Homo sapiens: one gene and its partners. The protein of the gene in region 4 purifies or fractionates together with the protein of the main gene of each other region. This does not show direct contact. Each region holds a gene or a part of one and is shown on either strand. Other genes may lie near its edges.

The links.
Region 1: the proteins of LRRC27 (region 4) and POLA2 purify together in Homo sapiens (affinity purification with mass spectrometry; 2 studies listed by BioGRID and IntAct, with this or other methods). This does not show direct contact.
Region 2: the proteins of LRRC27 (region 4) and MCM8 purify together in Homo sapiens (affinity purification with mass spectrometry; 2 studies listed by BioGRID and IntAct, with this or other methods). This does not show direct contact.
Region 3: the proteins of LRRC27 (region 4) and MTR purify together in Homo sapiens (co-immunoprecipitation; 2 studies listed by BioGRID and IntAct, with this or other methods). This does not show direct contact.

What each region holds. Positions count from the first base shown.
Region 1 is NC_000011.10:65,257,244-65,265,004, forward strand, and holds the start of POLA2 (DNA polymerase alpha subunit B), read left to right. Parts: upstream 1-4,718; 5' UTR 4,719-5,049; coding exon 5,050-5,128; intron 5,129-7,761. UniProt on the Homo sapiens protein: Accessory subunit of the DNA polymerase alpha complex (also known as the alpha DNA polymerase-primase complex) which plays an essential role in the initiation of DNA synthesis.
Region 2 is NC_000020.11:5,995,609-5,999,480, forward strand, and holds the end of MCM8 (DNA helicase MCM8), read left to right. Parts: 3' UTR 1-3,369; downstream 3,370-3,872. UniProt on the Homo sapiens protein: Component of the MCM8-MCM9 complex, a complex involved in the repair of double-stranded DNA breaks (DBSs) and DNA interstrand cross-links (ICLs) by homologous recombination (HR).
Region 3 is NC_000001.11:236,798,288-236,805,333, reverse strand, and holds part of MTR (methionine synthase), read right to left. Parts: intron 1,907-7,046; coding exon 1,692-1,906; intron 1-1,691. UniProt on the Homo sapiens protein: Catalyzes the transfer of a methyl group from methylcob(III)alamin (MeCbl) to homocysteine, yielding enzyme-bound cob(I)alamin and methionine in the cytosol. MeCbl is an active form of cobalamin (vitamin B12) used as a cofactor for methionine biosynthesis.
Region 4 is NC_000010.11:132,335,193-132,342,192, forward strand, and holds part of LRRC27 (leucine-rich repeat-containing protein 27), read left to right. Parts: intron 1-2,147; exon of another isoform or gene 2,148-2,229; intron 2,230-2,372; coding exon 2,373-2,503; intron 2,504-7,000.

The DNA of each region.
Region 1 (7,761 bases), on a different chromosome or scaffold from region 4:
GGAGGCCATGCTGAAGCCAGTGCCATCAGCAACAGGAAGAAGGCAAGGATGCCTACTGTGATTCAACAATGATTCCAAGGTTTGGTTCAATGCACCAAGACAGGAAAATAAAATGATTAGTATCAATATTTGAGAAGAAGGGAAAAATATTTTTTATTAGAAAATGTTATTATAATCTAGGAAATCTGAGACTCTCCTAAAACATTAATATTATTAAGAGAATTTGGTCAAAGTGACTGGTTGCAAGAAATATGTCCAAGGCTGGGAGTTGTGGCTCACACCTGTAATCCCAGCACTTTGGGAGGCTGAGGCGAGTGGATTGTTTGCGGCTAGCAGTTCCAGATCCATCTGGGCAACATGGTGAAACCCTGAATCTACAGAAAATTCAAAAGTTAGCCGGGCATAGTGGCGTACACCTATAGTTCCAGCTACCTGGGAGGCTGAGGTGGAAGGCTTGAGTGACTGTAATCACACCACTGCACTCCAGCCTGGTCAACAGAGTGAGATCTTGTCTAAAAAAAAAAAAAAAATTTACAATCCAAAAGCCAGTAACTTTCCTTTAACTGGCAATGACAAAACAAAAAACAATACGGGAGAAACATTACATTCATAAAAGCAACAGAAGATATTGTGTCAATAAATTGAACAAAAACAGGGTCTATATGGGAAAAACTATAAAATTGGATTGATAGACAAAGACAAAAAGCCTAAAAAAATGAAGAGATATACCAGGATCCTGTTTGGAATGCTTAAAGTATTCATTTCTCCTAAATATATAAAAATATTTAAGTCCTTCCTATCAGAATGGAGGGGGATAGGATATACTGTATAAAATGACTTTAAAAGTTTAAAATGGTTTCCTAAAAACTAGGCCAGGCACAGTGACTCACACCTGTAATCCCAGCACTTTGGGAGGCCAAGGCAAGAGGATTGCTTGAGCCCAGGAGTTCCAGACAAGCCTGGGCAACACAGCAAGACCTTGTCTCTATTAAAAAACAAAAATATTAGCCAGGTGTGCGTGGTGGTGTAATCCCAGCACTCTGGGAGGCCGAGACTGGTGGATCACCTGAGGTCAGGAGCTTGAGACCAGCCTGGCCAACATGGTGAAACCCCATCCCTACTAAAAATACAAAACTAGCTGGGTGTGGTGATGGGCGCTTGCATTCCCAGCTACTCGGGAGGCTGAGGCATGAGAATCGCTTCAATCTGGGAGGCGGAGGTTGCAGTGAGCCGAGATCGCTCCACTGCACTCCAGCCTGGGCAACAGAATGAGACACTGTCTCAAAAACAAAAACAAAAACAAAAACAAAAACAAAAAAACAGCCAGGTGTGGTGGTGCGTGCCTGTAGTCCCCGCTACTTAGGAGACTGAGGTGGGGGGATGGCTTGAACCCAGGAGATTGAGGCTGCAGGGAGCTTGATCACACCACTGCATTCCAGCCTGGGCAACAAAGTAAGATCCTGTCCCCCCCCAAAAAAAATAGTAAAATGCTTCAACAGTTTTGGGAAGTTACTGTAAAGCTACCTGGGGCAAACACTACTAAGTGCTTACCTAGTATTAACTCCTTTCTTAGTAACAAAATTTGTATATTGATGGGGTAGCAATGTGTTTCCTCAATAATATTACAATATAACTTTTAAACCTATAAGGAGGCTTTCCCAGCCTCCTTTAAAGGTATGGCTATGTGGCTAAAGTATAAGCAAAAGTGGTTGGGAAGGACTTCTAGAAAGACTCCTCTTCAAAAATGTATAGACAACGGTTTGCAAAAGTCATTTTTTTGTTTCTTTTTTCCCTTTTCATTTCATTTCTCTTTTCACTCTCTTTTCTTGCTTTATGTTTTTAAAATTTTATTTGCCCTTTCTTCTTCCTACTTTCTGCTACCTGGAATGGAATGTGAATCTGATGGCTGGAATTCCAGAAGCCATCTTGGACAATGAGGTGACTGTAAGGATGGAGATTAATTCGAGGACAGTGGAGTGGAACGATGGAGGCCTGATGAACGTGAAGCCACCATTTTAGCCCTGGGCTACCTATCTCTGAAATTATTTTATCTGACGAGAGAAATAAACTTCTATTTTGTCTCAGCTACTATTGTTTTAGGACTTGGCTATGTCACAGATCTAAAACCCACTTGATTTACTCCTGCAATCAAAATATATTGACACAGAAAAGACAACAAATAAATCAGTGGAATAAAACAGAAAATCCAGAAACAGATTCAAGTGTTTATGGGGACTTGATACATGAAAGATCACAATTCAAGTCAGTTGAAGAATGTTTTATTTACTAAGTATAACTGCTGACATGCTGGCTGTTTGTCAGGAATAAAACAAAGCTAAATCCTTCCTCACATCACAAATAAGATTAATTCTAGGTGGATTAGCGAACTAAAGGCAAAACGTAAGTAAAATTAATAAAACAAAAATTGGAAGAATATTTGCATAAGCTTAGGTCGAGGAGACCTTATTAAACAAAGCAGGAAACCTAAAACCCATACAGGAAAAGAATTGCACAGTGTTGTGTGGTAGAAAAAAAAACCCACAAAGTTAAAAGACAGGTTGGGAAAAATATGTATGTAACACATTTGATATCCATTGGTTATTGCTGATGGTGGGAAACTGCAAACATTTTCCGTAAAGAGCCAGAGAGTAAATATTTGAGGCTTAAGGGTGTGAACCCCAAAAGAGGTTCATGATGGATCCGGAGTGGCTAACTAGGCCTAAATTCAAAATACAGCCAAGCAGCCATTGGCTGACTAGAGGTCACACATACTTCGGTTTTTGTTTGCTTTTTTTTTTTTTTAGGCGGAGTCTCGCTCTGTTGCCCAGACTGTAGTGCAGTGGCACAATCTCGACTTACTGCAAGCTCCGCCTCCCGGGTTCACGCCGTTCTCCTGCCTCAGCCTCCCAAGTAGCTGGGACTACAGGTGCTCGCCACCACGCTAGGCTTTCTTTTTTTTTTCTTTTTTTTTTTTTTAGTAGAGACGGGGTTTCACCGTGTTAGCCAGGATGGTCTCGATCTCCTGACCTCGTGATCCTCCCGCCTCGACCTCCCAAAGTGCTGGGATTACAGGCGTGAGCCACCGCACCCGGCCTTTGTTTGCTTTTTGAGACACGATCTTGCTCTGTCGCCCAGGCTGGAGTGCAGTGAGGCGATCATGACTCACTTCAGCCTCGACCTCCCGAACTCAAGCGCTCCTCCAGCCTCAGCCCCCAGAGTGGCTGAGATCACAAGAACCCGCCACCACCGCCCGCTAATTTTTTGTAGAGAAGGGGTTTCGCCACGTTGCCCAGGCCGATCTTGAACTCCTGGGCTCAAGTTAAGGGAGGAGACCACCCCTCATATTGTCTTACGCCCAATTTCTGCCTCCAAAGAAAGAAAAAGTAAAACTAAAAGGCAGAAATGAAATCCACAAGCAGACAGCCCGGCCTCACACCCTAGGCTTGGTAAAGATGGACCCCTGACCTAATCAGTTATGTTATCTATAGATTACAGACACTGTATAGAAAAGCACTGTGAAAATCCCTATCCTGTTTTGTTCTGATCTAATTACTGGTGCATGCAGCCCCCAGTCACGTACCCCCTGCTTGTTCAATTGATCACGACCCTCTCAGGCGCACCCCCTTAGAGTTGTGAGCCCTTAAAAGGGACAGGAATTGCTCATTCGGGGAGCTCGGCTGGTGAGACAGGAGTCTTGCCGATGACCCCAGCCGAATAAACCCCTTCCTTCTTTAACTCGGGTGTCTGAGGAGTTTTGTCTGTGGCTCGTCCTGCTACAAAGTGATCCGCCTGCCTCGGCCTCCCAAATGCTGGGATTACAGGCGTGAGTGACCGCACCTGGCCTGGGATGGACATTTTAAAGGTTCCTGATACATATTGCTAAATTGTTTTCTCGAAACGCTCTATACCATCCCACCAGCATTGTATGACGCCTACGGTTGAGATTTTTGGCTCAAAGAATTACGGTGTATTTCAAGGGGAGAACCCTCTTCTCATCTTACCCCTAAACTCTATCCTTGAGTGACCTACCTTCACTCCCAAGCCTCCAGTCACCCACTGGGAATCTCTACCTGGAAATCCCAGAGGCACTCAAACTTAACGTGTCCAAAACTAAATTATCCGTCACCTTCCCACCTCATATCCCCCCAAATGCCCCAGATTCAGAAAACATACCCATCACTGTGGCTGGCACCACGGTGATAAGCACGATAATAACCATGGCAACCAGATTCCCTACTGAAGCCATTCTTTTAGGATGAACCAAGGGCACAACAGGCAGAGATGACAAGGGGAATGGAGAAGGGGGTACAGTAAGTTTTAGATAGTCGAAGGCACGCGCACGACAACGCCTGCGCACCACGGAACAGGGCAAAAGGGTGACAAACATGCGCCACTGAGTTTTATCGAGCAGCCGATGCCCAGAAAACAGGCATCCGCACACAGACTCAGTTTCCTTGTAGGCAACTCCCGGGCGTTGCGAGTCACAACCGGCATTCTCGCGCCGTGAGAGAGAACTGCGCAGCTGCTGACTGGCGGGCCGCCAGGCGCGTGCGTAGAGACGCCCACACGCCCGCTGATGCGCACGCGCCCTGGGCCGCGCGTGCGCGCGTGGGGTTCCGGAATGAGCCGGGGAAAGCAAGGGGAAGGTTTGGGGTTGGCTCCCGGTTTCGCGCATGCGTGCACTGCACAAACCATTTGGCGGGTTTTTCCGGCCACTCAGTTCTGCCACCGTCACTGAGAAGCTCAGCGGTAGCTTTTGGGAAGCAGGACGTTCTCACCAGGAGAGCGTCCTCTCGAGATTTCTGCTCCCTCCATTCAGGGCGTTTGGGAGCCACCCCTTCATTTTTTAAAAAAAGTATTTCTCTGTGACCGACGGCCGGGGCCTTCTGACGGTCTGAGGTCTTGCTTGGGCCAGTCACCTCCTGTCACGGTCCGCGGAGGGGGGAAGGATAAGAGGGCGAGGAGCTCATCGCTCGCCACCCCCGTGGGCTTCTTGGGCGCAGGTCGGAGCTGGGTGGGCCGGCTCCCCGGCCCCTGGCTTGGGCGACCATGTCCGCATCCGCCCAGCAGCTGGCGGAGGAGCTGCAGATCTTCGGCCTAGACTGCGAGGAGGCTCTAATTGAGAAATGTGAGTCCCGCACCCCTCCCGCCCTGCAGCCGTGCTCCACGCTCTCGCCCGAGTTCCTCGGCGCCTAGAACCGAAAGTGGAGCGCTTCCAATTTCCACTTCCCCTGGAGCAGAGTTCTCGGTGGCTGTGAGATGAAGAATCAAACTTGAGTTTTGAGATTTAGGATGTGGGGACTTTGAAATGCCCACCGGGTACCGCTTGGATGCCAAATCAAAAATAGGAATATGCAGCACGATTTTAAACCAACTCGAAGTTCCCGAAAGGCGGAATTGGGATGTGCTAGATAGAGACTAGGCACTGGTGGCACCTGAGTTTGGAAATTGTTGAAGCCCCGGTAACAAAGCAACAGATGTGGGGGTTTTGAAATGTAGCTTTTTATTCTTGGCTCCTCCCTTTCCAGCCTACACCTTAAACCTCTGCTGATCCATCAGTTATTTTATCATAGCTGTTGGTGGTCTGTGCAAATATGAATCCCTTGAGGTAGGTTCCTAAAATTGAATTTGAGCTGTGGAAGGAGCTTTAGGGAGCTTTACAGATGGAGAAACAGACAAGGAAAGCTAATTGCCTGAGCTGTCTGTGAAGCCAGGTGTCCTGCCTTGGAGTCCCGTGCTGCATCATACGGGTCCATCGTGTTGGTCAAGCTGTAGAGCAGTGTAAGGAGTCATTTGAAGCAAAGCCTGGGAGATGTGGAAGTTCTAGAATCGGTATGAATGTGCACCTGCCTTAACCACTCAACACTTTGAACTTCTTATATACAAAAAGATAACGAAACGTTAATTTATGGTGAGAAATTCCTTTCAGAAACCAGAATACTTCAAGTCTTCATGCCCAGTGCCTTCTCTCTCTCTCTTTTTTTTTTTTTTTTTTTTTGACAGTCTTGTTTTATCACCCAGGCTGGAGTGCAGTGGTGCAATCTCGGCTCACTTCAGCCTCCGCCTCCCAGGTTCAAGCGATTCTCCTGCCTCAGCCTCCCAAGTAGCTGGGATTACAGGCGCCCGCCACCAGGCCCGACTAATTTTTTTTTGTACTTTTAGTAGAGAAGGGGTTTCACCATGTAGGCCAGACTGCTCTCGAACTCCTGACCTCAAGTGATCCACCCACCTTGGCCTTCCAAAGTGCTGGGATTACAGGCATAAGCCAGCAGGCTCGGTCCTTCTCTTTTTAAAAGAAGACTAGCCAGGTGTGGTGGCTCACGCCTGTAATCCCAGCATTTTGGGAGGCCAAGGCAGGTGGATAATCTGAAGTCGAGAATTTGAGACCAGCCTGACCAACATGGAGAAACCCTGTCTCTACTAAAAATACAAAATTAGTCGGGCGTGGTGGCGCATGCCTGTAATCCCAGCTACTCAGGAGGCTGAGGCGGAAGAATCGCTTGAACATGAGAGGCAGAGGTTGTGGTGAGCCGAGATCACACCATTGCACTCTAGCCTGGGCAACAGGAGCGAGACTCTGTCTCAAAAAAAAAAAAAAGACTTAAGTGGAAAACCTGATCATAGTCAGAAATGTATGTGGTAAGCATGAAATCAGCATGAGAGAAATTAGTTATGTGAACCAGATTTGTAAAGGCTTCAGGCCAAGATGCCAGTTGCTTTCATCTCATGGCAATGGCTTTGGAATTGTGGACTTTGGATCATCAGTAACTTCAGTGGCACCTTAATGTTTCCTGACAGTCAACCGTATTTCCCTGTTTTTTTTGTTGTTGTTTGTTTTGTTTTTTGAGATGGAGTTTCTCATTGCCCAGGCTGGAGTGCAATGGTGCAATCTTGGCTCACTGCAACCTCTGCCTCCCGAGTTCAAGCGGTTCTCCTGCCTCAGCCTCCCGAGTAGCTGGGATTACAGGCTCCCGCCACCACGCCCGGCTAATTTTTTGTATTTTTAGTAGAGATGGGGTTTCGCCATGTTGGGCAGGCTGATCTCGAACCCCTGACCTCCAGTGATCCTCCCACCTCGGCCTCCCAAAGTGCTGGGATTATAGGTGTGAGCCACCACACCTGTTCTACTTTTTGTATTTTCAGTAGAGACAAGGTTTCACCATGTTGGCCAGGCTGGTCTTCAACTCCTGACCTCAGGTGATCCGCCCACCCTGGCCTCCCAAAGTGCTGGGATTACACTGCGCCAGGCCCCTGGTCTCTTTACTCTGAGTCTTCCAGATGATTGTTTTCCACCTTCTCCTGTAACATCCTTCTGTCCCACCCTCACTCTCAGCTGACAAATTTCTATTATTTGCTGAAAAATGTAGAAGCATTAGAAAACTTCGATCAGCTACCACCATTATGTCTCACTGACCCATATCTGTGGCATATACCTAGCCTTCTTTCCTATTATAATGAATAAGCTTTCCGTATTCCTAGCAAAATCCAAGTCCTCCACTTGAGTCCTAAACCCCATTCCTTCTGAAGCAATTAAGGACATCACTGGTAATTCTCCTGTCTTACATATTTTCTATTTTCCTTGCTACAAGATTTTTTTCCTACTAGTATAGAAATGTGCTTCCAATCTTGCCTTTAAAATACTCTGTTGACCCTACTTCCCACTCCAGTTCTCTCCTTCCCAATTACAGCAGACCTCAAAAGGGTCGGCCGGGTGCGGTGGCTCACGCCTGTAATCCGAGCACTTTGGGAGGCGGAGGAGGG
Region 2 (3,872 bases), on a different chromosome or scaffold from region 4:
TTGAAAAAGGGTATGTTATATGCCCCTTTCATAGGCTGCTAGGGAGTTTTCCTGGTTCTACTTTCAGGTGGTGGGATCAATAAGACCAGAATTTCTCATATGTTGTGAGAGGATTCAAATGTTACAGGGTTGCCAGCCAAACTATCAATCATGTATAAATCCAACAAACACTTTGTAACATACAAGAACTCAGGAAATGTGAACCATTGTTGGAGAATCTACTAAAATACGGCTTCCCGCAAACGAAGATGAATGGAAAATGTAAATAAAAAGAACTGGCAGTGTATATCAGATGTTTAACTATAGGACCAGAACTAAGATGTGGAGACTATTGCCATAGACCACAATGTAAATTTTTAAGTGAGGAAGGAAAAATCAGGAATCAAAAGGGGCCAGGTGCAGTGGCTCACATCTATAATCCCAGAGCTTTGGGAGTTCGAGGCAGGAGGATCACTTGAAGCCAGTTTTGAGACCAGCCTATGCAACACATTGAGACCCTATCTCTACAAAAAATAGATTAGCTGGGCACGGTGGTGCATGCCTATTGTCCTACCTACTGTGGAGGCTGAAGTAGGAAATCACTTGAGCCCGAGAGTTTGAGGTTACAGTGAGCTATGATTATACCACTGCACTCCAGCCTGGGCAAGAGAGCAAGACCTTGTCTCTTAAAGAAAAAAAAAAAAAATGGAGAAAGTAGATAGTAGTATAAATATAGTGAAGTCTTTAAAAGCTAGGAGTTAAAAGATATTTAAAGCAAATAACTCAGGCATGGTGGTGTGTGCCTGTAGTCCCAGCCACTAAGGAGGCTGAGGCAGGAGAATCACTTGAACCCGGGAGGCAGAGGTTGCAGTGAGCCAAGATCGTACCACTGCACTCCAGCCTGGGCAACAGAGTGAGACTCTTTCTCCAAACTAAATAAGAGATATTTAAAGCTGAAAAAAAATCTATTAATAGAATTTAAAACATTTCACAAAAGTCAACACATAAATAATATCAACCAAAATAAAGTGGTAGACAGAAGAGAAAATATACTAATTTATTGTTCAAAGAGGAAAATAAGTCTCAAAGGTTAAGGCTATTATATAAATTTATTTTTAAAAAGACATAAACCTACATTTTCAGAAGAAGAAGTTCCATGTTTCCTTAGATTATGTATTTAGCATCCATTAATCACAGGGCCAAACTAACAACAAAAGTTGTTTAGCTTTCCCTTACAATCCAGCTTTTATGGGTGTGCAAACATCACATTACAGTCCCTCCAACCACAAACCCCAACATATAGTATTTCACTTCCTGCCCAATAGTGGGTGTCCCCACACCTTTCAACCACTGTAGCAACAAAGCTCTGGCCTAGGCTTTTCACTTGCTTCTTTACTGCCTGACTGACTTTGGTGTTTCCTCATGTGGCCTGGTGTGGCATGGCACGCCCTCTTGGGAGATGAAAGTAATCTTCCATAGGCAATTGTTTCTGTGTCACCATTGCTGATTAAAACAAATCCTAAGTACAAATGTCAGAACAGAAACATGCAAAGCAAGAAAACATTACATCATGAAAGTTTCTTTTTTTTTCTTTTTTCTTTTTTTTTTTTTTTTGAGACAGAGTTTTGCTCTTTTTGCTCAGGCTGGAGTACAGTGGCGCGATCTTGGTTCACCGCAACCTCCGCCTCCTGGGTTCAAGCGTTTCTCCTGCCTCAGCCTCCCAAGTAGCTGGGATTATAGGCATGTGCCACCATGGCTAATTTTGTATTTTTAGTAGAGACGGGGTTTCTCCATGTTGGTGAGGCTGGTTTTTAACTCCCGAACTCAGGTGATTGCCTGCCTCGGTCTCCCAAAAAGTGCCGGGATTACAGGCGTGAGCCATTGTGCCCAGCCAAAAGTTTCTTTTTCAAGAGATGGTGGTCTTGCCATGTTGTCCAGTATGGACTTGAACTACTCAGCTCAAGCAGTCCTCCCACCTCAGCCTCCTGAATAGCTGAGACTACAGGCATGCACCACTACACCTGGCTGCGAGATGAAATTTTAAGAGATGGGGGTCTTGTTCTGTCGCCCAGGCTGGAGTGCAGTGACATGATCAAGCCGTGATCTCCTGGGCTCAAGCAATCCTCCTACCTCAGCCTCCTGAGTAGCTGGAACTACAGGAATGCAACACCATGCCCAGCTAATTTTGATTTTTAGTAGAGATGAGGTCTTCCTTTGTTGCCCAAGCTGGTCTCAAACTCCAGGGCTTCCTGAGTAGCTGAGACTACAGGTGTGAGCCACCATGCCCAGCCTCCTCTCTTTTCCAATATTGTGTTAAGTAAATTGTATTGGTGGTAATCAACTTGATCATTTCATTTTTAGGATAGAGATATCAAGGTGAGGGTATAACTGAACGAGAAGAGGAATAAACACCACCCTGTGATTGATGGATCTTTATAGCTCTCCTTTGATAAAGAAGGGAAATATCGTACTTACATTAGCATGTTATAGTTGCTGTTGTTATACAGAAGAATATTAAACAATATTCATATATTGTTTATGAATGCATTGAATTCATAAACAATGGTATGGATATTGACTAGCCAAAGAGGTGGATAAATGTAGATACAATGATACGGTGATTTGGTATTCAGTGTCCATTCTGCTCTCCTAGTGTGCCTTCCTATAATGCAGGGGCTGGAAGGTGAGAAAATAACCACATTTCCCAGACTCCCTTTGCAGGTAGATTTCCAGATGTGAATTGGGTTCCACTGATCAGACACCCATGTGTGAGATTTGGAATGCAGAACTGAGGAGAGAGCCATCTTCCTCTTGCTTGTGTTCTGGTGGCATGTGTGGTTGAGGAGACATTTAATTTCCCTGCAGCAGAATTCTTGCAGTCAGTTGTTGAGGCAAGTGGCGTGGTGGATGCAACCCTGATTCTTCACCTTTCTCATTATTGTGGGGTAGCAGCGCCTCTGGCAAGCCAGACAGACCTGCAGTGTTTTTCTGGGAGTTAATTCTGGAGACCCAGTATGGAACCCACTCCTAGCCCTTGTGACAATATTGCAAGCATCCAGTTCCCTGTTTTACAGTCCTTTTAAATGTGGCTAGCTACAGTAGTTTGTGTTTCCTGCAACTAATCACTCATACATCTGTATCTAAAGCACTCCACCTGGGTCATGTACTATACTTAAAATTATAAGGCAATATTAATTCACAAAACTACCTACTCGTTTTATTTAACCCTCAGAAGAACTGAAAACAAAAGCTATACCAGGCTTGCTCTAGAGCGTGGGCTTGGGAATGGAAAGGCAGAGTGCACCTATTGAATTCCATCATCAGTTTTTCTATACCATGGAGTTACTTACCATGTGTATACATAACACTGATTAAAAATTTTAAAAAAAAGGTTAAAACAAAAACTGAGCCAGATTCTGACATTTAAATCAGAATTATTCTTAGTACATAGACTTGCAAAGTCACTGAATAATTCCTTGGGACTACAGACTCTTAGTCTTTGCTTCTAGAAATGTATAGTAATTTCAACATGTCATATATATAGAGAGAGTATATATGTGTATATATATACACACACACACACACTATATAGAGTATATATATACACTCCATATACAGTATATATACTAGTGTGTATATATATATACACTAGAGTATACACACTCTAGAGTATACACTCTATAAAGTATATATATTATATATACTATATATTATATATACTATATACTCTACAGTATATATATACACTATAGAGTGTATATATATACTATACAGATATGTATAGAGTATATATACTCTATATATACACTATATATAGTCTATATACTCTAGAGAGTACAGTATATATATATAGTGTATATATACTCTATGGAGTGTATATATATTCTCTTTCT
Region 3 (7,046 bases), on a different chromosome or scaffold from region 4:
TCTACATCTCCTAGTCTCTCTGAACAAGCATCACATCCCTACTGAAACCCTGAAGATCTTGATGCTCCTTTGTGCTCTCTTCGAAACTCGTCTCCCTGGCTCCACTCCTTGGATCATCTCAACCTCAATCTGACTAGCAACCTGGAATCCCTTGACCCCCTTGATTTTCCAATACTGAATAAACCCAACCCCTCTTAAGTCGATGGACAATGGTTGCAGAAGCACTGGGAGATAAAAACCAAGATACGCACATTTATAGTAACAATAACAAACATCCGAAATATCTACCCATAGGGAAACAGCTAAATAAACTAAAATATATCCACTTTATTACATGCCATGTGACAGCAAAAAAACTGTGTATATCTACAAATACTGACATGGAAAGATTCTGCAAAGTATTGTTAAGTAAAAAAAAAAATAGAATGATACGTAAAGCATGACACCATTAAATTAAAAAAACATACACAGAGTACTATGAGTTTTCTACATATATATATTCACTCACGTATACACACATACACATATATGAAAATGCCTAACAAAGGAATCTGGGACGACACACACCAACTAATATCAGTGGTTATCTCTGGGGAAAAAATAGCAATTTAGAGTATGGTCAAATGGGAATGTATTATCTACGAGATTTGTTTTATAAGAACTAATTTAAGTTTTTTTTAAAAGAACAAGAAAAACTGAAAATAAACTTAATGCCTAGGAATAAGGAGATTAGTTAAATAAATGATGATATATACATGGAATAGATTATGAAGTTATTAAAACCATGTTCCAGAATATTTAATACTCATGGTATATAAGTAAAAAATGCAAATTATAAGACAGTACGAAGCAATGTAATCCCAATTTAATTTTTTAAACTCCAAGTATAGAAAACTAGACTAAAATACAAAATACATGAATGATAATTGTATCTTAGAATTTTATAATGGGTGAGCGCCAGCTTTCTAGTTCATAGACAGCATCTTCTCACTGTATCTTCACATGGTGGAAGGGGTGAATAAGCGCCCTTGAGCCTCTTTTATAAGGGCACCTCCTAATACCATCACACTAGGCATTAGGATTTTACATATGAATCTCATGGGGACACAAACATTGAGAACACAGCAGTGCCCTTATAAGCACAAATATGAGAGTTTTTTGTTCTCTCTCTGCTCTCCGTCATGTAGATACAAAGACAGCTATCTATAAACAAGAGGGCCCTCACCAGACACAGGATCTGCTGGCACTTTGACTGTGGACTTCCAGCTTCCAGAACTGTGAGAAATAAATGTGTGCTTGTATAACCCAGTCTATGGTAACAGGTAATACAGCAGCCAAAGCTAAGATACCAACCACCTTTAAGCATTTCTTCATCAGGGCTGTTGCAGTAACTTAAATAAGATAGTTTTCTCACACTCACTAGTGTGAAAACCCTTATTTGTCCAGATTCTCATAGTTTTTCACTAGAGTTTACATGCCTCAAGGGCAGAAAACCTACCTACCTCATTCCCTTATCCTGAGTGCTTAACACAGTACATAACTTTTATTTGATGTCCAAAACCTGCTTTCTGAATAAATTGCCTCTTTATTCTTTATTCTCCGGAGCACTCGGCATAGCAGCCTGCCCTGATACATGAAACAGCTTGCAGAATAACAGAATGAATACACATGGGAACCTGGGAATACTTTACCTTATGGATTTGGTAAATGACATCAGGCTGAGTTATACTTAAAATGTCATTGTTGCCTTTCAGCGGCCTGGCATGATCTTTAAATTCCTGACCTCGGAAGTGTTCTTCGTTTAGCTTCTCCCGCTGGATCATGGTCCCCATCCCTCCATCCAGCACCATAATCCTCTTCTGCAGAATGGCATTGATCTCATCCCGCAGGGTTTTCTTCAGACCTTCTTTAAAGAAAGTGAAAGTTTGACTTCAAAGAATGAAAGGTGAAAAAGATGTGTGAGGGAGGAGCTTTAGAGAAATTTATAATAATCTCCAATAAGGAGTAAATGGAGTTTATAAAAGATGCACTCATAACTCTATATAGGAAAACGCTGCCCAAAAAGGTCATTAAGTCGTGACAATGCCTAATACAAGATTGCACACAGCACAAAATTCCTGGTGAAGCACGAAACCAAGGTGAAGGTAGGCTACACTACTCCTGTTTTACAGATGAGGAAAACAGGCAATAATGGGCCAGTGATACAAGACTTTGCTCTCTTTCCTTGTTAATTCTGTGCAGATACTCCCTAAATAAAATGATTTAGCAGAGATAATTGAAAACCATCAATAATTCCAAACTATTCTTTAAAATATTAGCTTTGACCTTCTCCCTCACCTATTGCCAGAACTAATAATGGCCTGCAAACAGAGTTTTACTCACCTCTGCCCAACTATGAAATAATAACTGGCTAACACCCTTGAACTTCTCAACTCTCCCCATGCTCCTTGACTTCTAATTCCCAGTCCAGAAAAGGGCCCAATGCTTACTCCTTCTAATCCTGCTTTCTGGTTTCTACGACCTACTGGAAAGCCACAAAACTATGCTGACTGGAGTCACTGAAAACTTGCAACGTTCAGCCTCCTTTGGTTCACCTTTTCTTGACCTCCCTCAATACTTCCAACATCTACTGTCCCAATTTCTACTTTTTTTTTTAGCACCAAATCCTTTTCCTCCTCACTCCACAAGTGATTTCACCTAATCCCGTACAAAGAAGTTTTCTGTTGGAGGCTCCTCAAACTCACACCCTCTCCACCTCAAAATCCTCTTGCAGTCTGGCTCACTCTATTTCCCTTCTTTCTGTACCTAAGGAAAAGCGCATGATGACCAACACCTCCCACTGCTCCCTCATCTAGCCCTTCCCACTCCCACAGTTCCACCTCAGCAACCACCGATTTCTTATCCTTCTGACATGGCTTCCTCCTCCACCACTCTCCTGAAATTACTTTCTAAAGTCACCAATGACCTTCTAAATATCAAAAACACCTGGCCCCAATCTTAGACCCAGCTTTTAAACTGTCCACTGGATATGGCTACCTCAACTACCCACCTGCCCCTCAATCTAATATTCAAAACCAAACTTGCATATATTCTCTGTCTCATCTCCTGATTTCTGTAAATGGCAACACCCTTCCCAGAAGACTAACCATAAAATCTCAGTATTATCTGACTCCTTATTCTCCCTGATAACCAACATCTACTTAGATCCCAAGCCTTATAGATTTGGCCTCTAAAATGCCATGCACAATGGTCCCACCTTCCTCGCCCTGTGACAACCCCTTTCTTCAACCCCTTACTACACAGGCCAGCTATCACCAATCCTCTCTGAGCTCTAGTTTGCATCCATGCAAATGAGATCATACATCTATGGAAGTGCCTTGTAAACTATCAAGTGTCCTACAAAGGTAAGAGATCACCACCATACCCAGTCGCCCTGTGTTCTAATCCATCCTGTGCACCACTACCAGATTTATCTTCCTATACAACAATTTTAAACCAGTTGCTTCCCCTGCTCAAACACCTTCAACAACTCCCTATAGCATATCAGACTGAATACATGTTACTCAAAACAAACCATAATGACGCCAACCCATTCCTTCTGTGCTAAGAGGCGAGAAAAGCTCAAGTCAAATGGGGCTGGTTCTAAGCTATCTGAGCTCCTTGGAACTCATGCCTAGCAACACTAAGGTCAGTACTTGGCAAATATTTCTTTAATTGAAATGACAAAAAAGTGAGGGAAGATGAGAAAGAAGAGGCAAAGATAATTTAAAACCCAAACCAGTAATGTAAGAATATTTGTAAGCTGGTATTGGGTGCAAACTTACAACCCTGCCTCGTCTTACTGTCCAGAGTCTCAAGTATACAATATGAGAACTGGGGCTAAATGGTGGTCACAGAACTATTTTGAGTGACTTTCTCCAAGTGGGCTTCAGGAAGGTGGCTCTAGTAACCTAAAAGAAAAATTTGCAATATCCAATATCTAGTTTCTGGGCACTATGTTTCTTTCAGGGTGTACTATTCCTTTCCAAAGCCACCTCACTTGCTAATTGTGTTTACTGAACTTGCAGGTGAGATAAAACACTTCCTGATAAAGGAACGAAGTTAAGCTCCAATGATCTGTACAAAAGTACTTCAAGAACCAAAGAAAATCACTTCTTGGGAAATGTGGAGAAAAGGTAGGGCTTAATGAAGCATGTATAATAGAAAGACTGGTAGGCATCAGGCAGTGGGCGCCATTTCAAGCTATAGTCGACACGGTAAATTCACATGTAGTGTTAATTTAGGCACTCCATGATGTGACTATCCTATCAGCCAATAAGCACTCAGAATTTGATAGGCTTAAGCTAATAGTAGCAGGGTGTGAAAACCCAAGAAATCTGGGTTTTAGCCCCAGCTCCCCTTAGTAGCTATGGGATTTTAGACAAGTCCTCTCCATGCTTCAGCAAGATGAGGAAACATCAGCCCTGCCTTCATCATCAGAACTGTGATACTAAAATGAGACCATGTGTTAAGAACTGGACCTCTTAAGTCACACAAGTCATGAAATGAGACATTGGTGTTTGATGTATAGTAAACATCTGATAAATATTAGCTACTCTTATTATGTTGGTATTATAGCACAGCAAGGACTGAAGCTCTAAAGATTGTGTTCTATATATTACAAAGCTCAGTGGGCTGTGAAAAATCATGTAAAGCCTGAAGCTCTCAGTTGGTCATGTTGGGGCAGGAATGGCATATTTGCAGGTTGGGAAATGTCTTCTAACAGTCGAGTGAAAGAAGAAAATACTCAGTGAAAGCTGTTAAATGTAGATAATTTCACAGGAGGAATGAGAAGACTAAGAACTAAAGACTCTAACCTACATGCCCAGCTGAATCGCTTTCTTCTCAAAAGGATGTAGCTGCAATTCTCCCTGAAATGACATCACGTGAACTTAAGTGGGTGACTGAATCATAAGCCTAGTGTGAGCATGAGGTGTGGCAGTGGGGAAATAGGTCATGCACATGAAATTTCATATTTAAAAGGTATTCAAACTTCCTAGGGAGAAAAAGGCAATCTTTTCCACAGACAGTGAAGTATGTCCTTTGGCATCGGCAAAATGATTAATCAATATCAATCAATATCCTATTATTTACATGTCCTTCTTCCTATCTCCTCCACTGAGCGAGTGCACACAAGTTGAGCAAATCTAACCACTCAGAGTGCCTCCACCCCTCATTTTCATAAAAAGTCTTAGTACTTTTCCATGGGGCCCTTACTGTATTCCCTTTTCAATCCAGAAATAATAAGCTTTGTTTTTGGACTTTAAGACAGTTCACTATTTACCACAAAACAACCCAGCCCCACACATGCAAATTCTGGCATCTTGTTTGTTGAGCCACCGTATAGGCAAGAGATCAAAAGCTGTTTAAAAACATCTGCTTTGGTTTTTCAGAAACCTGACAAACTTATTGTATAATTTATTGGGAAGAACTTTATGACTTCGAATGAAAAGGAACTTCTTAAGACTCAAAAAGACCAACCTCTTAATTTAAAAAAAAAAAACACAATGAATTTGATTACATAAAAACCAAGGATTTCTGTTAAACGAAAGTCACCATAGACAAAAATAATAGACGATGGGTTGGGGGAGATTCTTCAATGTCTAAAGCTAATTTGTTTTCTTATTGATTTGTGTTAGTTCCTTGTACATTCCAGAATGTAATATACAATGTGAATTAAAAATACCTATAGACTAGAGTTTACAACAAAATGTATAAATATATGGATATATGTGAAAAAGGCGGTCTATGGAAACAAGAGAATTGTGAATAGAAAATACAGATAAAAAGGAATATATAATAAAACACAGGAATTTTGCAGCCTGAATAAAAAACTCCTATGCAACTGAGGCCCTTAAAAATCCATTACTTGGGCTGGGTGTGGTGGTTCACACTTGTAATCCCAACACTTTGGGAGACCAAAGTAGGTGGATCACTGAGTCCACGAGTTCGAAAACAGCCTGGGCAACACAGTGGCCTCATCTCTACAAAAAAAAAAAACAAAAATTAGCCAAGCCTGGTAGTATGCACCTGTAGTCCCAGCTACTAGTAAGGCTGAGGCAAGAAAACTGCTTGAGCCTGGGAAGTCGAGGCTGCAGTGAACCGTGATCACGCCACTGCCCTCAGCTTGGGCAACAGAGTGAGACTGTCTCAAGAAAAAGGGGGAAAAAAAAAAACATAGTTTCCTCAACTACTTGCTTATTTTTCCTTTAGAGGATAATGTAAGATTTCCCATTTAGAGAAACTAAGAAGTCTTCCTTCAGAAAATCTGTTGGTATTAAGTGTTCACTATTTTTAGCCTTCTGTATTCCTCCAGTTTTTCCAGTAGGAGGTCATTTTTCACTGGGCTTTAATTACCATTCTAATTCACCAGTTTCCAATTACTATCAGAACTTGCTCAAAAGAATAAGTCACCTTGACAATTCCTTCCCCTGGCAGAGTGGGGATCTACTGAAATGTCACTCTTCCATGAAGAACAACAAAATTGTATTTATCTGTATTCAGTTCATTAGGTCTAGAACATTCTGTATACTTAACTACTGACTAGTCAAGTTCTAAATAAAGCAGATTCTTTCTGATTATCTTTCACAGTAAATATAAGAATATAGTTTTGCAGTTCCTTTACTTAGCTGACTAGTTATAACACTATTTCAGAAATATTTTTATGTTTAATGTATATATGTAAATAACCGCAGTGCAGAGGAGAGTCCCAAGGAACATCCTTGGCTAGTGAGCCTAAGAGATCACACAGTATTTTCTCCAGTTTTGAGTGGATTTAGCCAATATATTTTGTGGGGTTTTTTTCCGTGCCCTTAACATCTTATTTTCTAGCTAACAATATTCTGATTCACAGCAAGTGTTCCAAAGAATAAACATAGGTATAAGTGGTTAAAGCCCTAGTCAGATTTGGAGGGGGGTAGACCAGCTAGTACCACCTTTAAGAACTAGCCTAAAGAATGACAAGATGAAGGCCTAAACAAATAAATTCCTAATATGTGCATGTAAGT
Region 4 (7,000 bases):
TGATGGGCAGGCACACCCAGCAGGGTTACAACAAGCCATTTATCCCCTGGTGCGCAGGTCCTGCCCCAGTTCCTCATAGGCTGAGTACTATGGGGGTTACAGTCTTCCCAGACTTCGCCTATTGGTTGTTGGGTAGGGGCTGTAGGGCACAGGTTCCTCCCCCAGATCCTCATAGGCTGAGTACTATGGGGGTCACAGTCTTCCTGGACTTCGCCTATTGGTTGTTGGGTAGGGGCTGTAGGGCACAGGTTCCTCCCCCAGATCCTCAGAGGCTGAGTACTATGGGGGGGGGTCACAGTCTTCCTGGATGTCGTCTATTGGTTGTTGGGTAGGGGCTGTAGGGCGCAGGTCCCTCCCCCAGATCCTCATAGGCTGAGTACTATGGGGGGGGTCACAGTCTTCCTGGATGTCGTCTATTGGTTGTTGGGTAGGGGCTGTACGGTGCAGGTTCCTCCCCTGGTTCCTCATAGGCAGAGTACTATAGGGTCGCAGTCTTCCTGGACGTTCCCTATTGGTTGTTGGGCAGGGGCTGTAGGTATTTTCTTTAGGGTTGTCCTGCTTTATTTTGTCGTGGCCCACAATGCATTGCAATCCCAGTCAGCTCAGGGGCTCTTCAAGTATTTGATTTATGACCTAAGTAGCTGGGCAGGCTGATAAGAACGGACAAAACGAGCTATTTTGCGGGCTAGTAAACTTTCATCTTAGACTAATCTTCTTTGGTTTGGGTGAGGGCAACTAAGGGGTGGGGAATGGCCAACAAGCAGGCATCGGCTATCCAAGTAGGGGCCTAGTACATCCTGTTTTTCTGTAGTTTGCTGACCTAAGCCAATTCAAGGCACTTTGTCTTGGAAATGGACCACTGTATATATTATTTCCTTCAACCATAACCAGCTCCAAGTCACAGGTGGTGCCTGCATTTCCAGAGGTGCTGGGGAGGAAGAAGAGTGTTATCTTTCTGAGATTCCTTTTACTGGCATTGAGAACGACATGGTTTCAAAGCTGAGCACTGGAATCAGCTTGCCCTGGGGGGGGAAGAACAGGACCAAGAAGTGTAAAACCACTCCTGCAGAGGCCCGAGAAAGGCAGCACGTGGAGGCATGCACATGCCTGTATGTGGGGGGTGCACACCCATATACGTGGGGGCACACACTGTGACCTGTGATTGCCAGGATGCTTTCTGGAGACCGAGCCAGCTGCCAGCAAGCAGTGACTCGGGCAATTTCCTAACAGAGATAAGATAGTGTTTCCAGTGCCTTTCTGAAGAGTGTGATTTTTCCAGTCAGTGTTTCTCCAGTTGGAATCTGTCAGTGATTTGGATCAGGGACACGGTGTTGAGGGCGGAATGGGGAGGCATGTGGTGCTCTGTGCAATGTGCAGTGTGTGTTTCATAGAGAAGGCAACGTAATCACAACAGCCAATCCACGCACTGTTCTTTAGTGCTTGCCCACATTGCCCCGTCTCACAGATGAGGACACTGGAGCACAGAGAGGTTCAGGAACTTGCTCAAGGTCACACAGCCAATAGATTTTGAAACCTAGATGTGGATCCAGGCAGTCTGGCTTTGAGATCATTGTTCCGAACATCTGTTTCTACTCCCTCAGGAAATACAGATATGGATATAAATACATATAATAATGTGAGTATAAACAACTAGCAGCATTAATGACAGTATTGTAAAAATTAGCTATGATCCTTCCACACTGTGACTGTAAAATTGTGTGAATGTTATATGCATTTTACACAGCTAAAATCAGCGTGTATACGTTCATCTTCCACCTTCCCTTATTTGTCACGACTTTACAACGCCACCGAGTTGATGTGTCAATCTGCTTCTGAAATGCTGCTCGCTGAGGCTTTGTTTGCTGCTGATCGTAGAGAACACCACGGCAGACATCTCTGTCCCTGTCTTTTAGTTTCATTTTAATGATTGAGTTGGGCTGAGTCCCCCAGACCAGACATGGCTCTGGCTATTTGCTCAGTAAGCAGGCGATTTCGGGGGCTGCCGAGGGCCAGGTGCTGCGGCAGGCACTGGAGAAACGGCCGAGACACTGAGTGTGGGGCCCCGGAATTCAGACCATGTCAAAGGCTTTGGGATAGAAACAGTGGTGTGCTGGGTCAGCAGCAGAGTGCCGGCTCTTCAGGAAGTCAGTTCCGGCTCCAAAGGCCGCCGGAAGGAGTCCTGGTTCTTTTCTTTCTGATTCTTTTGTCTACTGTTTACATCTTTTAAGGGTAAGAGATTGGGTTTTTGTTTTTTAACTTAGTATATACGGTTCTGGTTGTTAGTAGTTCTTTTGGAAATAGATTTTGGATATATCATGTTTTACAAATTAGTTGGTTAACAAAACATTCTCTGATTCTCTTTTCCATGGAAGCAATTGCATCTGCAAAGGAATGCCCTGTGTGTGATTCCTCAAGATTTCTTTCAGTTGCTTCCGAACCTGACTTGGCTGGACCTCCGGTACAATAGAATTAAAGCGCTTCCTTCTGGGATTGGAGCTCACCAGTAAGTTGTTTATGTTTCCAGATTTTAAAAATCATCTTTTCAGTGCACGAGTGCCTGTTCTTTCGCTCCTTGTCCTTTACTCTTGATTAAATTTTTACCTCGGAATAGAAACATTTAATAGTATTTTTAAAGCCAGCTAAGAGGTTGCGACGGCTGAATGTACCCAACACAGAACTATAACTTGGGATATTTGGTGCCACAGAGAATGCTGTAGCCACAGTGTCTTTTTGCTGGGCAGCCAGTGTGATTTTTGTCACAGCCGATTCCAGCTCTGACTCTCCTTGTGTGAAGCTGTCTGAAAATCAGAAATACCTCTGATGAGTTAAACCAGCAACTTTGGCCAGGCGCGGTGGCTCACGCGTGTAATCCCAGAACTTTGGGAGGCCGAGGTGGGCAGATCACCTGAGGTCAGGAGTTTGAGACCAGCCTGGCCAACATGGCAAAACCCTATCTCTAATAAAAATACAAAAATTTGCCAGGCGTGGTGGTGGGTGCCTGTAATCCCAGCTCCTCAGGAGGTTGAGGCAGGAGAATTGCTTGACCCCAGGAGGCAGAGGTTGCAGTGAGCTGAGATCACACCACTGCACTCCAGTCTGGGTGACAGAGTAAGAGTCCGTCTCAAAAAAAATAAATAAAAAATAAACCAGCTCCTTTGCTCCTGAGGGCTCCTGGGTAACCCACATTGGTTCTTGGCAAATAGTGAGAAATTCTTCTCACTTTGGAAAACTGGGAGCACCCAACCAAGCTCCAGGTGTCCTGTCCATTTCCACCACTTCCCTTCCAGGAGTTTCCTTGCATTCCCACTTGTGGGGTGTAATCCTGCCCATGGTGGAAACGTCACACCTCCTTTCCCCTCCTCAGCCTGGCCCTTCCCCAGCAGCCAGGACTCTACTCTCACTATGGAGACGTCCTCCTTTCCTGAGCTCTCTGCTTCTGTGCCCACATCCCCGGCGCCATGGCTTTTTCACCTTCTGAAGCCATGATTGCCCTTAACTCTTTTTCTTTTCTTTCTTTCTTTTTTTTTTTTTTTTTGAGACGGAATCTTGCTCTGTCTCCCAGGCTGGAGTGCAGTGGCGTGATCTCGGCTCACTGCAACCTCTACCTCCTGGTTTCAAGCGATCCTCTTGCCTCAGCCTCCCAAGGAACTGGAATTACAGGTGCCCGCCACCATGCCCGGCTAATTTTTGCATTTTTAGTAGAAACGGGGTTTTGCCATGTTGGACAGGCTGGTCTCAAAGTCCTGACCTCAAGTGATCTGCCTGCCTTGGCCTCCCAAAGTGCTGGGATGACAGGCATGAGCCCCCGCGCCCGGCTACCTGAACCTCTTTTGACAAGTGCTGATATGAAGGCCCCATATCAGCTGGGGCCACGGCAGCAGCCCATGCAGGAGGGGCAGCCTGGGCGTGGCTGGCCACGGCAGGGCCTGGGTGGGACTTCAGAGCTGGTGGGATGCGGGTGGGTGTGGGGCCACAAGAAGAAGAGGGGTATCCAGGGTGCCCCCAGTTCCTACGTGAGGAATGGTGTCTCCCAAGAGCCATGGTGGCCTCCGTGGGACAGTAGAATAGAGGCTTGTAGGAGGCCCTTCACTTGCCTTGAACTCACTGGTTTTAAAAATGTTTTATAAGAAGTCAGTGTATTTTGCCACAGGTAATGGGAGGGAACCATGCATCACTCACCCTTCAGGCTCTGCGAGGAAGCTGCTTATCTAATGATAGGTGGTGTCCGGAGCAGGTGGAAACACACCCGGTGCATCTCCATGGGGCTCCTAGGGACTCTGGGGTCTGCAGGGCGGACCACAGACGGACCTGGAGGAGAAGAGTGTTCCGGGGCTCAGCTGGTACATCTGCCGAGCCCGGCCAGCCGCTTGTGTTTTGGGAGCTGCATGGGAGCCAGGTGCTCTCTGGGCAGTTGTCCACCCTGTCCTCACGGCCTCGGGAGGCTTCCAAGCCTGAGGCTGAGAGTGCTTTGGGAAGGATTTCTTCTTCACACGATCATCATCTTCTGGGTTTAGAATCACTGGGTGCTCTTTTGTCCACAAATTGTTTTAGCCTTACACAGTTCTGGAGAGTAAGTGCTACTCAGAGGATGTAAATGAACTAAGACCTGTTCCCATAACTACTCGTGTTTTCCCTAAAATAAGTGTACAGTCCTCAAAATTTGAAATTCTTTGATTTTGCTAGTCAAAGCTGGCTGCCTATGTTTTTGGAGGTATACTTTTATTTGTGATTTGTAACCCATGATAACATTCAAATTAGATCAACTACAGAGCTGAGACATATTACTCGGAAATACAAAGTGATTGTGGGCTTATTAAAGCCTTAAACCTCTCAAAACATAATTAAAACAGTGACGGTGTTAGCATGCCACCTTCTCAGTGTCCTGGATGTGTCAGCTTGCTGGCAGAGAGAAGATGTAGGAAGCATGGATCCGTTCATTTACCTCCTTAGGCCAACAAGTCCAACTCAACGTTTACGTTTATATATTCATTTTAAAATCAATGAAACGAATCAACGGGTAAGCTTTGAATTATTGATAGTATTTAAGGAATTAACATTTATCAATTTATCGTTTAAAGTGTGCTCAGAATATTTTAATAATATTATTATATAAGGTAGAAAAACCCGTGCTGTACTTTCAGGTTAATAGTCAGTAAACATGCACCCCCCGCAATCCCTCTCAGGCAAAACCGAACCCAGCCCCACCCAGCAGCACGTGAGTGGGCCAGAACCTTTCTGCCTTGACAAAGCCCTAGCATTGGAGAAGCCGAGAGCGTGGTGCTGCTCTTGCTGCCCTCCTCAGCATCTGGAGGCCTCTGTTCACCTTATAGAGAGCAGATGCTGTTCTTGTTGGCTGGTTTTATACTAGCAAAATTCAGAGGGAGTAAACCAAAAACAGTGAACTGAACGAACCACATTGAAATAATCCACTTTTGTGCAGTTCAAGAAAAGTTTGCTTCATAAAGTTTATTCCTTAAAAACTTCAAATAATGGCCAGGCACGGTGGCTCACGCCTATAGTCCCAGCACTTTGAATGGCCGAGGTGGGCGGATCACAAGGTCAGGAGTTCGAGACCAGCCTGGCCAACATGGTGAAACTCCGTCTCTACTAAAAAAAAAAAGTACAAAAAAATTAGCCAAGATCACACCACTGCACTCCAGCCTGAGCCACAGAGTGAGACTCCATCTCAAAAAAAAAAAAAAAAAATTCAAATAACAAGGAAAATCCAAGAAAGTAAGTAGAAAGAAAATTGTCTAAACCTTAAGTAATCTGATTTTCCTGTGGGGTTACCAATAAAAAAATTAAAGGTAATTTAAATGAGGGCTGGGCATGGTGGCTTATGCTTATAATCCCAGCACTTTGAGAGGCTGAGGCGGGAGGATCACTTGAGCCCAGGAGTTCAAAACTGGCTTCAGCAACATGGGAATACCCTGTGTCTACAAAAAATACCAACATTAGCCAGGCATGGTGGCACACACCATTAGTCTCAGCTCAGCCAGGCGTGGTGGCACACACCATTAGTCTCAGCTTAGCCAGGCATGGTGGTACACACCGTTAGTCTCAGCTACCTGCGGGGACTGAGGCGGGAGGATTGCTTGAGCCCAGGAGGCGGAGGTTGCAGTGAGCAGAGGTTGCAGTGAGCTGAGATTGTGTCACTGCACTCCAGCCTGGGCAACAGAGTGGAGACCTTGTCTCAAAAAATAATCATCATAATTAAATGTGAAAACCAAGAAGCATAGTACAATAAAAGTTACAAAATAGAGTTTAATAGAATATATAGATTTTTCCATCATTCAACTAGTAAATTTTTACATTCTTTCCTGTCCGTCTGTCTAGGCATCCATGATATATTTTGGGCTGCATTTTATAAGGATGTTACTAGGTGTTAAATGAAAGTAGATGCCTTCCCGAAATGCTGCCTTAGCTGAGTTTCTTACGTAGAGGCTTCTCAGAGTCCCCAGTGTATGAATCATTCATCTCCAAGCAGGGCAGGTTATACTGTGCGGTGGAAGTCTCTCAAACATTTTTGGCCGTAGAAAACTTTTTTCACAGAGCATGATAAAACACTGGGATTCCTCACTGCACATCTTAGGAAAGACTGGTTTACAGTGAGGTTATAACTGGAAGGTGTGAAAGCCTAAAATAGAGGTTCTTAACGGGGAGATTTTACCCCCAGGAGACTGTTGGCAATGTCTGGAGACATCTGTGGTTGTCACGCCTGGGGGTGGGTGGTACCCCTGGCATCTGTTGGAGAAAGGCTGGAGGTGTACAATACCCCGCAAAGCAGGGGACACCACCACCCCTATGGACTGCCTGGTCCCATGTGTCAGCGGTGCAGGGCTTAGACCTGTGTTTGCATATGACAGCAGACCATTTGTGTGTACATGTTGTAAATTTAAGTGTATCTGTATTGAAGTTGCCCCTGAAAGAGAAGAAAAATGAAGAAACTTGATGGTATATTTTGGAGATAGTCAATTAAATCTTGCTTTTTAAATTTTTT